2 separate regions of the Homo sapiens genome follow, and region 2 is linked to region 1. The links come from fine-mapping of genetic effects on gene expression. Tissue or cell type: whole blood. Region 1 holds a variant in brackets; the other region holds the start of a gene. All regions are shown on one strand. Distances are between the middles of the regions.

What was found. PIP is the estimated chance that this variant, and not a neighbour inherited with it, causes the effect.
Region 2: it holds the start of B3GALNT1, and the variant in region 1 is fine-mapped to the expression of B3GALNT1 in whole blood (TOPMed, PIP above 0.99). The same link has a PIP of 0.9 or more in blood mononuclear cells.

The regions. Positions count from the first base shown.
Region 1 is chr3:161,133,667-161,139,196 of GRCh38, forward strand. No RefSeq gene overlaps it. Among named protein-coding and RNA genes, the nearest start is that of B3GALNT1, 31 kb to the left of the region's middle. The variant T/C (reference allele first, on the strand shown) is at 2,669.
Region 2 is chr3:161,103,205-161,108,204 of GRCh38, forward strand. B3GALNT1 (beta-1,3-N-acetylgalactosaminyltransferase 1 (Globoside blood group)) reads right to left here and starts at 2,145. Exons shown (of 5, transcript NM_003781.4): 1 at 2,031-2,145; 2 at 1,115-1,202; 3 at 223-313. LOC124909453 (a long non-coding RNA gene) reads left to right here and starts at 1,477. Exons shown (of 2, transcript XR_007096147.1): 1 at 1,477-1,681; 2 at 3,367-5,000. RefSeq lists silencers at 1,700-1,949, 1,960-2,049.

The DNA.
Region 1 (5,530 bases):
ATTTCTCCTAACAAGCTGTACTCTTGCATGCGTTAACCAACAGCTGACTATCCCCTTGACCTCTTCCAAACCCTTTCCCAGCCTCTAGTAACCACTATTCTACTATCTACTTCTTTTTTTATTTGTTTGTTTTGAGATGGAGTTTTGCTCTTGTTGCCCAGGCTGGAGTGCAATGGCGTCACCATGGCTCACTGCAACCTCTGCCTCCTGGGTTCAAGCGATTCTCCTCCCTCAGCCTCCTGAGTAGCTGGGATTGCAGGCGCCCGCCAGCATGCCCAGCTAATTTTTGCATTTAGTAGAGGTGGGGTTTCACCATATTGGCAAGGCTGGTCTCGAACTCCTGACTTCATGTGATCCACCCACCTCGGCCTCACAAAGTGCTAGGATAACAGGCGTGAGCCACCACACCTGGTCACGGTATTTATCTTTCTATGCCTAGCTTACTTCACTTATCAGAATGTCCTTCAAGGTCATCCATATTGCCATGAATGACAGAATTTTATTATTTTAAATTGCTAACTAGTATTCCATGATGTATATATACCACATTTCTTTTATCATTCATCTGTTGATGGACATGTAGGTTGATCACATATCTTGGCTATTATGAAAAATGCTTCAATAAACACGAGGGCAGATATCTATTTGACATACTGATTTCCTTTCCTTTGGCTAAATACCCAGTAGTGGGATTGCTGGATCATAGGGTAGTTCTATTTGTAGTTTTTTGAAGAACCTCCATACTTTTCTCCATAATGGTTAAATTTGCCTTCCCACCAACATTGTGTAAAAGCTCCCATTTCTCTCCATCCGTGCCAGCATTTGTTATTTTTTGCCTTTTTGATAGTAGTCATTTTAACTGGAGTGAGGTGATATCTCATTGTGGTTTTGATTTGCATTTCCGTGATGTTTAGTGATTTTTTTTAATAATAATATCAATGAAGAAATTCTGAAGTTATTTTGAATGTATTATAGATAGAGAAAATTGTGGGAAACCAGGGTTCTTTCCTCACTGTAGGAGAAGGGAGTAAGAAAAAAATATATAGCTCAGAGCAGTCTGAGTTATGTGAGGAATACAAAATTTATCAGGCCCAGAGAGACATAAGTATGGCATTTCAGCCATGCTTCCTTCCTACGTTCATGCCTGGGGCAGTTCTTTAAAGGCATTTTGTTTCTAATTTGCTGCTTCACCCACCTGTTATGTTCATATTCCTGGGAGGTGTGATGCAAGGAACAATGATAGTTAATAAATTATGTTATTTTAATGCAAATTCTTGGTTAAAAAAATTAGAAACTGATTCTTCTTTTTTACGTTAAAAACTCATTAGTTACTGCTGCTAATTGGAGTATGTATACAGGGCAACTTAAATCTATGCTCCTGAGTTGCAGTCCTCAAACTTGGCCCAAATAAACTCTCTACTTTGCCTCAGCTTCTTCTTGTAGGTTGACATTGGAATTAGAGGTATCAGTATTAACTCATGATTCTTTAAAATTTTGGATTTCTAGCTTTGTCTCCCAAAAAAAGCATAGAAGCAATAACATTCCAATAGCTAATTTCAAGTCTGGGAAAGGGGAGGTTCACAGTAAGCTGGAAACATCTTACGCACAAAAGTAAGAAAGTGCTCAAAATTGATGGGAACACAAGAGTTGACTTGAAGCTGTTCCCACTGGCTAAATTTGTGACAAGCTGAACATCAAAAAGAATAATAATGGTGATGGATTATATTACCTTGAAATAAGAAAAGAACCCATGAATCCATAGTGACACTCAAAATAAAGGTGGAAGTGGAAGTGAGCTCTCTTCTTTCAAAGACTGCAGCCTACAAAATACAGAAGAAATTATAGAATTAGAAAAATCACCATTTTTCAACCACCATTGGAATAATTCAGGCAAGATCACCTGTAGATGCTAAACTTATTGAGTGAAAGGTTTTTGAGGATTATTGGGCAGTATGATATTCACAGTATTGTATCTCACACACAAATTACTTATTTTTATTTAATTATTTTTTGAGACAGGGTCTCACACTGTCACCCAGGCTAGAGTGCAGTGGCACAATCATGGCTCACCACAGCTGCAACCTCCCAGGCTCAGGTGATCCTCCCACCTCAGCCTCCTGAGTAGCTAGGACTATAGGTGCCTGCCATCATGCCTGGCTAATTTTTGTATTTTTTGTAGAGATGGGGTTTTGCCATATTACTCAGGCTTGTCTTGAACTCCTGTGCTCAAGAAATCCACCCTCCTGGGCCTCCCAAAATGCTGGGATTATAGGTGTGAGCCACCGCGCCTGGCCCACAGATTACTTATTAATTACATAAACCAAATAGTATTATTTGAGGCAGGTCTCAATCAATTTAGAGATTTTGCCAAGGTTAAGGACATGACCAGTGACACAGCCTAAGAAGCTTCTGAGAACATGTGCCCGAGGTGCTTGGGTTACAGTTTGGCTTTACATATTTTAGGGAGACAGAAGTTACAAGCAAAGGCATAAATCAATACATGGAAGGTATATATTTGTTCAGCCTGGAAAGGCAGGACATCTTGAAGCTGAGGGAGGAGTCTTCTAAGTCATAGGTGGATTCAAATATTTTGTTATTGGCAATTGGCTGAAAGAGTTAAGCTCTGCTTGTTGAGTTGAAGTCAGAATAAAGAAATGCTTGAGTTAGA[T/C]TGGGGAGTTGTGGAAGCCAAGGTTCTTGTATGAAGATGAAGCCTCCAGGCTTCAGAGAAAATAGATTATAAACATCTCTTCTCTGGAGACCTTACTCTCCAGAAAAGACCTAGTAGCAAAGGAAGGAGATTCTCTACAGAATACACATTTTCTTTCTAATGACTTGTGATGTAGAAAAAAGAAAAATGCAAATTTCCCCTACAAGGACCTCTTTGCAAGGCCATGCCACAATATGTCAAAGAAATATATTTAGGGCCAGTTACAGTGACTCTTGCCTGTAATCCTAGCACTTTGGGAGGCTGAGGCAGGAGAATGGCTTGAGGCCAGGAGTTTGAGACCAACCCGAGCAACATAATGAGACCCCTATTTCTACAAAAATTTTTTAAAAATTAATTGAGCATGGTGGCATATGCCGTCCAACTACTCAGGAGGCTGAGGTGGGAGGATCTCTTAAGCCCAGGACTTTGAGGGTTCAGTGTGCTATGATCATGCCACTGCATTTCAGCCTGGGTGACAAGAGCAGGATACTGTCTCTAAAAAATAAATAAATAAATGAAAAATAAAGTAACAAAGGAAGAAAGAAATTAAAACATATATTTAGGGCCTGTTATCTGTCATGTGATGCTATACCAGTATCAAGTTGGAGTTCAGTATCTTATTGCTACAAAGAGTTTGTCTTATTCATCTTATGATCTCTATTTTTGTGTTAATGCTGGTCAGTTGTGCCTAAGCTCCAAGGGGAGCCATGTACTACCCCCCATTCCCATCGTAGGCTGAAATAGTTTTTCAGCTTTCTCTGGGATCCCCTTGGCCAAGAGTGGATCCATTCAGTCAGCTGTCGGGCTTAGAATTTTATTTTCCATGTACAATTACAATATAGTACACACTCACATGCATGTGCATATGCACACATGCACAAAATATGTTGAGATAGTATGCTGATCTTTATGAACATGTAATAGCCCAGAAATGGGAGAAGCGCTTTTTAAAGAGATTTTTCAACCACAAATCTTCACTGAAAGAAGAGACTTCTGTCTATCTTGGATATATGTCTTTTGGGACACTCCTACCTCTAGAGACCAAAAACAATTGTTCCTGAGAGAAAGTGAAGTCACCCGAGTAAAGGTGCTTAGGTTGAGAAGCTAAGCCAAGTGCTTTATTTTGTAATGTAAATCCATGTCTGTCAGCAGCAAAGCCAAGTCCCTGCAGCTTTGTATCTTCCACAGGAGAAAGGATTATTTTCTATATTTGGATTTTTATTGTTTTGGGTTGGTTTTTTATTGCTGGAGATGTGTATATGTTCTTTATGTAGTAAATCACAGAGAATCAGGAGCAGAAGCCCTAAAGCTACTGTAGAGATAGGCATGCCTGATCATCCTATGGGGCTTTAAAAAAGTGACCTGGACTTAGTCCAGTTTAGCACAGCATGGGTTGTGGTTATGCCCACTAAGATTGGATAACTCACAATGTTGTTATTGATTTGGCGGCCGTTATTTGTAATTGTCCTGAGAGGTGGAGCTCAGGGTAACCATAACACTGAGGGTTAGGGTGGTGCATCTTTTAAAAGGAGACATAATTCCACAATCATCCACCTGAGTAGTAGTTATAAATTACTGGTGTGCAAAAATTGAGATGGAGGAAGAGCAGAAACCAGAGGGAAAGGAGACCCTTTTTCTTGTTTAGGTCCTTATTGAGAGTCTGGCAAGAACCTTGAGGCATGAAGATAGATGAGAGTCAAATAGGGAGGCAATCGAGGTTGGTCTCAAATACAGAACTGGGGGTGGTGCATCGGAGCGAAGTCATTTTTTTTTTTTTTTTTTTTTTTTTTGAGACAGAGTTTCGCTCTTGTTGTCCAGGCTGGAGTGCAATGGCGCGATCTCGGCCCCTGGCAACCTCCGCCTCCCGTGTTCAAGCGATTCTCCTGCCTCAGCCTTCCTGAGTAGCTGGGATTACACGCATGCACCACCACGCCCAGCTAATTTTGTATTTTTAGCAGAGGTGGAGTTTCTCCATGTTGGTCAGGCTGGTCTCGAACTCCCGACCTCAGATGATCCGCCTGCCTCGGCCTCCCAAAGTGCTGGGATTACAGGCATGAGCCACCGCACCCGGCCCTGAGCAAAGTCATTTTTAACAGCAATTGGAAGTAACTCATTGTGCTAAGCTTCCTGCCAGCCAGTCTCAGATATGCCTAGGAAATTAAGAAATGGGCCTGCCCGTGCTTGGGGAACAATGGTAAAGGGCAAAACACTGCCTCCCCCTGAGGCCAAAGGGGAGAAAGCAGGTATGTCCCCAGTTATCAAGGATACAAAAATAGTTTCCAAAGGGTAGAGGTCATCAGGCATAAATTCTCTATAAGTCGATTCATTAACAAAGTATGTAGTCAGTCCTCACTTGTCTCCTTATAATTGGTTCACATTATTACCTGTCAATAATTCTGAAATCCCAATGCTTTTGGAAAGTTATTTTTTTCATAAGTTTGCAACTATCTCATTTGGTGGCAAAACTTGACTAGAACTTACTTGATATTTTTTACACTTTTTTTTTTATTATACTTTAAGTTCTGGGGTACATGTGTACAACATGCAGGTTTGTTACATAGGTATACATGTGCCATGTTGGTTAGCTGCACCCATAAACTCATCATTTACATTAGGTATCTCTCCTAATGCTATCCCTCCCCCAGACCCCCACCCCCCAACAGGCCCTGGTGTGTGATGTTCCCCTCCCTGTGTCCATGTGTTCTCATTGTTGAACTCCCACTTGTGAGTGAGAACATGTGGTGTTTGGTTTTCTCTTCTTGTGTTACTTTGCTGAGAATAATGGTTTCCAGTTTCATCCATGTCCCTGCAAAGACATAAACT
Region 2 (5,000 bases), 31 kb before region 1:
TCTATTTTTCAAGCAAGAAAAAAGAAAAAAATATATTATCCAAAATGGCTTAGTAGAGCTTCACTCTTGAATTTCTTCAAATCCTCTGATGAAAGAATCGTACTAGAATATACAACAAACTTCGTGGCTGCATCAACGATACTTAAAACCTTGTAAAGGGCATTATTATGGGCATTTTTAACCAATTAGGATAATTTATAAGTTAAAAGTAGATGAACTTACCTGTGGAATTCCAGATGAAATTAAAGCTTAAGTTTTTTGTTGTTTTCTGTATTCCATGCTTAATTAAAACACTCAGATCTGTTGTGAACTACTGAACAGAAGAACAGAAAAAAATATATATGAGTCATAACATTAGGAATTATGACATCTAAAATCAATGTTGTATACTTAGCAAGTTGTTTTTGGAGCCATTTATTACATATCAACACTTTTTTCATTTTTGGAAAAGCCTTGATCCTCTCTTCTCGCTTTCAAATCACCTCATGCTCTAATCTGAAATTATACTTGGACACTGTTTTTTTGTTTTTTGTTTGTTTTGGAGATGGAGTCTCACTCTGTTGCCCAGGCTGGAGTGCAATGGCACAATCTCGGCTCACTGCAACCTCTGCCTCCCGGGTTCGAGCAATTCTCCTGCCTCAGCCCCCCGAGGAACTGGGATTTCAGGTGTGTGCCACCACACCCAGCTAATTTTGTATATTTAGTAGAGACGGGGTTTCACCACGTTGGCCAAGCCGATCTCGAACTCCCGACCTGAGGTGATCTGCCCGCCTCGGCCTCCCAAAGTGCTGGAATTACTGGCGTGAGCCACCGCGCCCGGCCTGGATGCTGTTTTGACAACAGTGTTTATTTTCAGGTCTGGAGTTATCCAATGGCCATTCATTTGAACGAACATTTTAGTCTATGAGGGGAAAAAAGTCATAGTCTCTTATCTGTTAGTAATAAACGATTCTGTTCTCCAGACTGATACGCGTTCAGTAATTTGTGCTTTTATCAGGCATCGACACATGCATACTAAGAGCACAAATTCAGCGCCCTTCTTTTGCTTAAGCCTCCTGGGAGAAGCTAAAAAACTTGTTCCCAGTTGAACACTGCAAACCCAAATTTTCCTTACCTCTGAAAACAGAAAAAAAGACATGGTTTGGCAATTTCTTCCTTGATAGCTTTTCCCACAACGCAGCCACCTCCTAAACGCAGGCAATCTGTGCAAAACGCAGAGGAAACAAAATCATGAAAGCCCTGCAAATCTCCCTCCTAAATCCAACATTAAGAAGGCGAACGGATACTGAATTCAAAGACTACCCGTACTTGAGGATGGCATCATTCCTTACTGCTTGGAAAAGTGAGACTCCGTTGCACCTCTAGGAATCTTTTTAAAACGCCCTGTATGTTCCTTAACACTGCCTGTAGGAATCCTGTAGCCCTAGCCCCGTGGGATTTCCTTCTCTCTCCGCCCGTTCTCCACATTCCCCACTTAGTTTCACATTCCTTCCCAATCCCTCCGACATCCCTGCGCCGGGGCCCTTCCCTAGCGCTCCGGGAAAGCGTTCGCCGCAGGCCTGTTAGGGGCCCACCAATACCGTAACACCGTTCCCGTCCTCTTCCTCGGCACCGCTGCAAACGCCCCGGGTCGCTACCCGGATTTGACGGTGGCTGGAGCGGCACGGGCGACGCAAGGCAGGTATTGCACCCTGGGGCAAGGCAAGGTGGACAACCAGCGGATGCGGCGCGGCCGCGGCCTGGGCCTGGGCCCTCCGCGTCGCCCACTGCCCCACTGGGCCCCTTCTCCCGCGCTCACCGGAGGCGGGCAGCTGCTCGTCACCGAGACCCGAGACCCACGGTGCGGCGGCTCAACCTGGGCCACGCTCCGCTCTAGAGGAGTGGGCGGTGCCTCCCGGCCTAGCTGCCGGGGTCTAGGCGTTTCCGAGGACGGCGCGTTCCGGGAAAGGCGGGTCCGGTGGCTATACCCTCCACCCAGTGGCAGGACTCAACCGCCTCGGAGACCCTGCAGGGCCGCCCTTCTCACTCACCTCCTGTGCTCGGCGCGCACCCAGCTCGGAAGCGGGAAGGTGGCCGGCGTTCTCTCCCTGCGCACACACGCAGCCTCCCCGCATCCGCACGCACGGCCGGGCGCGCGCAGACCACGCGCCAGGGCCGCGGCCGGAAGCCCCTGGCTGCACGCGCGGGCCCAGGCGGCCCCCAGCCCTGTGAGCTCGCATGGCGCGCCCTCTGGGTCCTCGCGGTCACCTTGCATTCCGAGCACGGCCGTGTTATGTATGCCTTTAGTTGATGCTGGCCAAAATTAGACAACTTAGTGGCAGACGTCGAGCTAGAATTTTTGTTTGAGATCCTTTTTCCCTGGTCGTCTTTCCAAACTGCGTGAGTGCATGGCCTCGAGGCGGCCCTGGAGGGATTTTCTTGTTAAACTTCATACAGAACTAATTAGGAAAGAGGAAATCTTAGGAGGAGTTCTTTGCTGTCTCAGAAGAAATGCCAGTTCTTCTTCCGGAATCGATGGGGAATGGAATGGGGGTAAGAGAGACACGTCAGGTTTCAATGGCCTGTGTATGGATGGGAGTCCCAGGGAGTTGCTTTTGTACACCTGAGCATAGCTGACCTAAACTCCCAGATCCATCTCCTCAAACTCCTTTTACCAAGATGTGCAGTATTGATTGTACTGGTCCTTTCCTCAAAATCAAGTGGGTCTGGATCATGTATTTAACCACTACCAAGCTCAGCCATGAGCACCACCCCTGATTGTAACCCACACATTTGCATCAAGACTAAACGTGGCCCACCATTTCTTTTTGTTTACTGACTCTTTGGCCTGACTGCTTCTTCCTTATAGCCTTTTTCTGCAAAATTACTTAGGATAGTTTGAAGGTTCTCTGAAAATAATAGGGGTGAATATAGAGATCAAAATGGATATACAACAAAAGTAAGTTTAGATAGTAGCAGTGTAAGTCAAGGACTTAGTTGACACTGCATAAATAATCAGATCTAAATTATAATAATCAGATCTAAATTATGGTTGAGATTGTTTTCCTGGTTCCAGCCTTGGCAGGTAGCTGTGTCCTTTGCAGAGGGTAAAGTGATTGCTGCCCTGCTGCACGCCTTTATCACAGCCATTCTTCACCCTACCTGGGCTGACAGTTCACCTCACTAAGTCAAGGAGGTCCATTAATAACAAAACCAGACAGGTTTCACTGCAGATAGATTAATATGCTGAAAAAATAGACCTCTTATTTGGAAGAATGCTTTAGGGCATTAATACTATATTTTACAAATTCCGTTTCTTAAAATTTTAGAAAAGTTGTATTTCAATACTCATTTTTAAAATGTTTTGAATGTCCTTTGAGTAACCAGCAGGTATATGTGCTCATAGCTGCCAAAACTTCCCTGGAATGCAAAGCAGAGCCATGGACAACAGATTGGGGTAAGAAATTCTCCTAAATGAAGTAAGTGAGACAAAAAGGCCCAAAACCTTTATGAGATTATTTCCTTTGAAGCAGTCTCCTTTTTCTTTGTGTAGCATTTATCAGCTTGTGATTGAGTCATCTATTGCTGCAGATCGAACTCTCCCAAAATATAGTTGCTTGCAAAAATGTCAATTTAATATTTCTCATAATTCTGAAGGTTGGTTATGTGGTTCCTCTCTGGTTTTGATTTGGCTCACTCGTATAGATACATTCAGCTGTAGCAGGGGTTGGCCAAGTTTTCTGTAAAACAGGATCAGATAGTAAATATTTTAGACTTTGTCTCTGTCACATATTCTTTTTTATTTAATTTTTATAAACTATTAAAAACCCAAAGCTATTCATAGCTCAAGGGCCATACAGAAGCAGGCTATGGCCTACAGGCTGTAGTTTGCTGATCCCTGAACTGGAGAATCAGCTAAGCTGAAAGTCCAAGGTGGCCTCACTCATGTGTCTGCTGTTGGCTCCATGTGGCCTCTTATCCTGCAGTAGGCTATGTTTTTGGTCTGTGGGCAACATCCAGAAGAGAGCAGGCAGAAGCTGTAAAATTTCTTAAGGCCTAGACTTGGGAGTCACACAAGATCATATATGCCAAATTCTACAAATCAAAGCAAATTGTGAGGCCTCTCCAAATCCAAGGGGCAGGCAAATAGTCTCTGCCTCTTGATGGAAGGAGCTGCAGATAATGTGGCCAGAACTAGCTAAACTAAGTGGCAGGAACCTTATTCTTGAAAGTAAATCATCAAACTTCAAATTTATGATATCTGATGGCAGCTATTGTTCTTACTCACTTCTCTCCCCAAACTACCCAAACCTGTTTATAATTCTGTGAGCACTCACTTGCCTCAGAACTTGTTTACAGATGTCTCTGCCATGAGATTATCAGCAACCTGAGGGAAGAGACAGGCCCTACCGCACTGCCTTGCTGTAATATATCTTCAATAGATATATATGGAATTTAGCTGAATAGCCTTACTGAGGTTTAAAGTCAGGTTATTTGCTTACTTCACAAAAGCAAAATAAATTTAAGTATCCTGCACTATCTACAAATTCCAGAAGAAAAGCACACATCAAAGAGTTATATGTCACACTCACATACCATCTGACCAATAAGATGGAAACCTTCCTAGCAATTTTCCGAACATATAATCAAGAGTTAGGAAGCCATATGCCTAATGATAAGTTTGAACTAGCAGTCACCTTTAAGGCTATATTACATTTTAACCTTAAATTTGTCTGCAGATGAAAATTGAAATGTAACAACAGTTCTTTCGTAATATGTGCTATATATGTTTCAAGGCAGATGTGGTTCTGGGCAGGGTTTCTAATCTACAGGAAATGCTTCTACTAATTGTTCAGTTGAATTTTTCAATATGTGCCTTCTCCAAAATCTGACTGTGACTGTCTTCTTCCACTTGATGGAAAGCTTTGACAATTTATTATGCTTAGAAGCAGCTGGGGTGTATTTCTAATTGATGATTTGTTATATTTCTTACTTGACTATCCACATCTTTCATTCTCTTC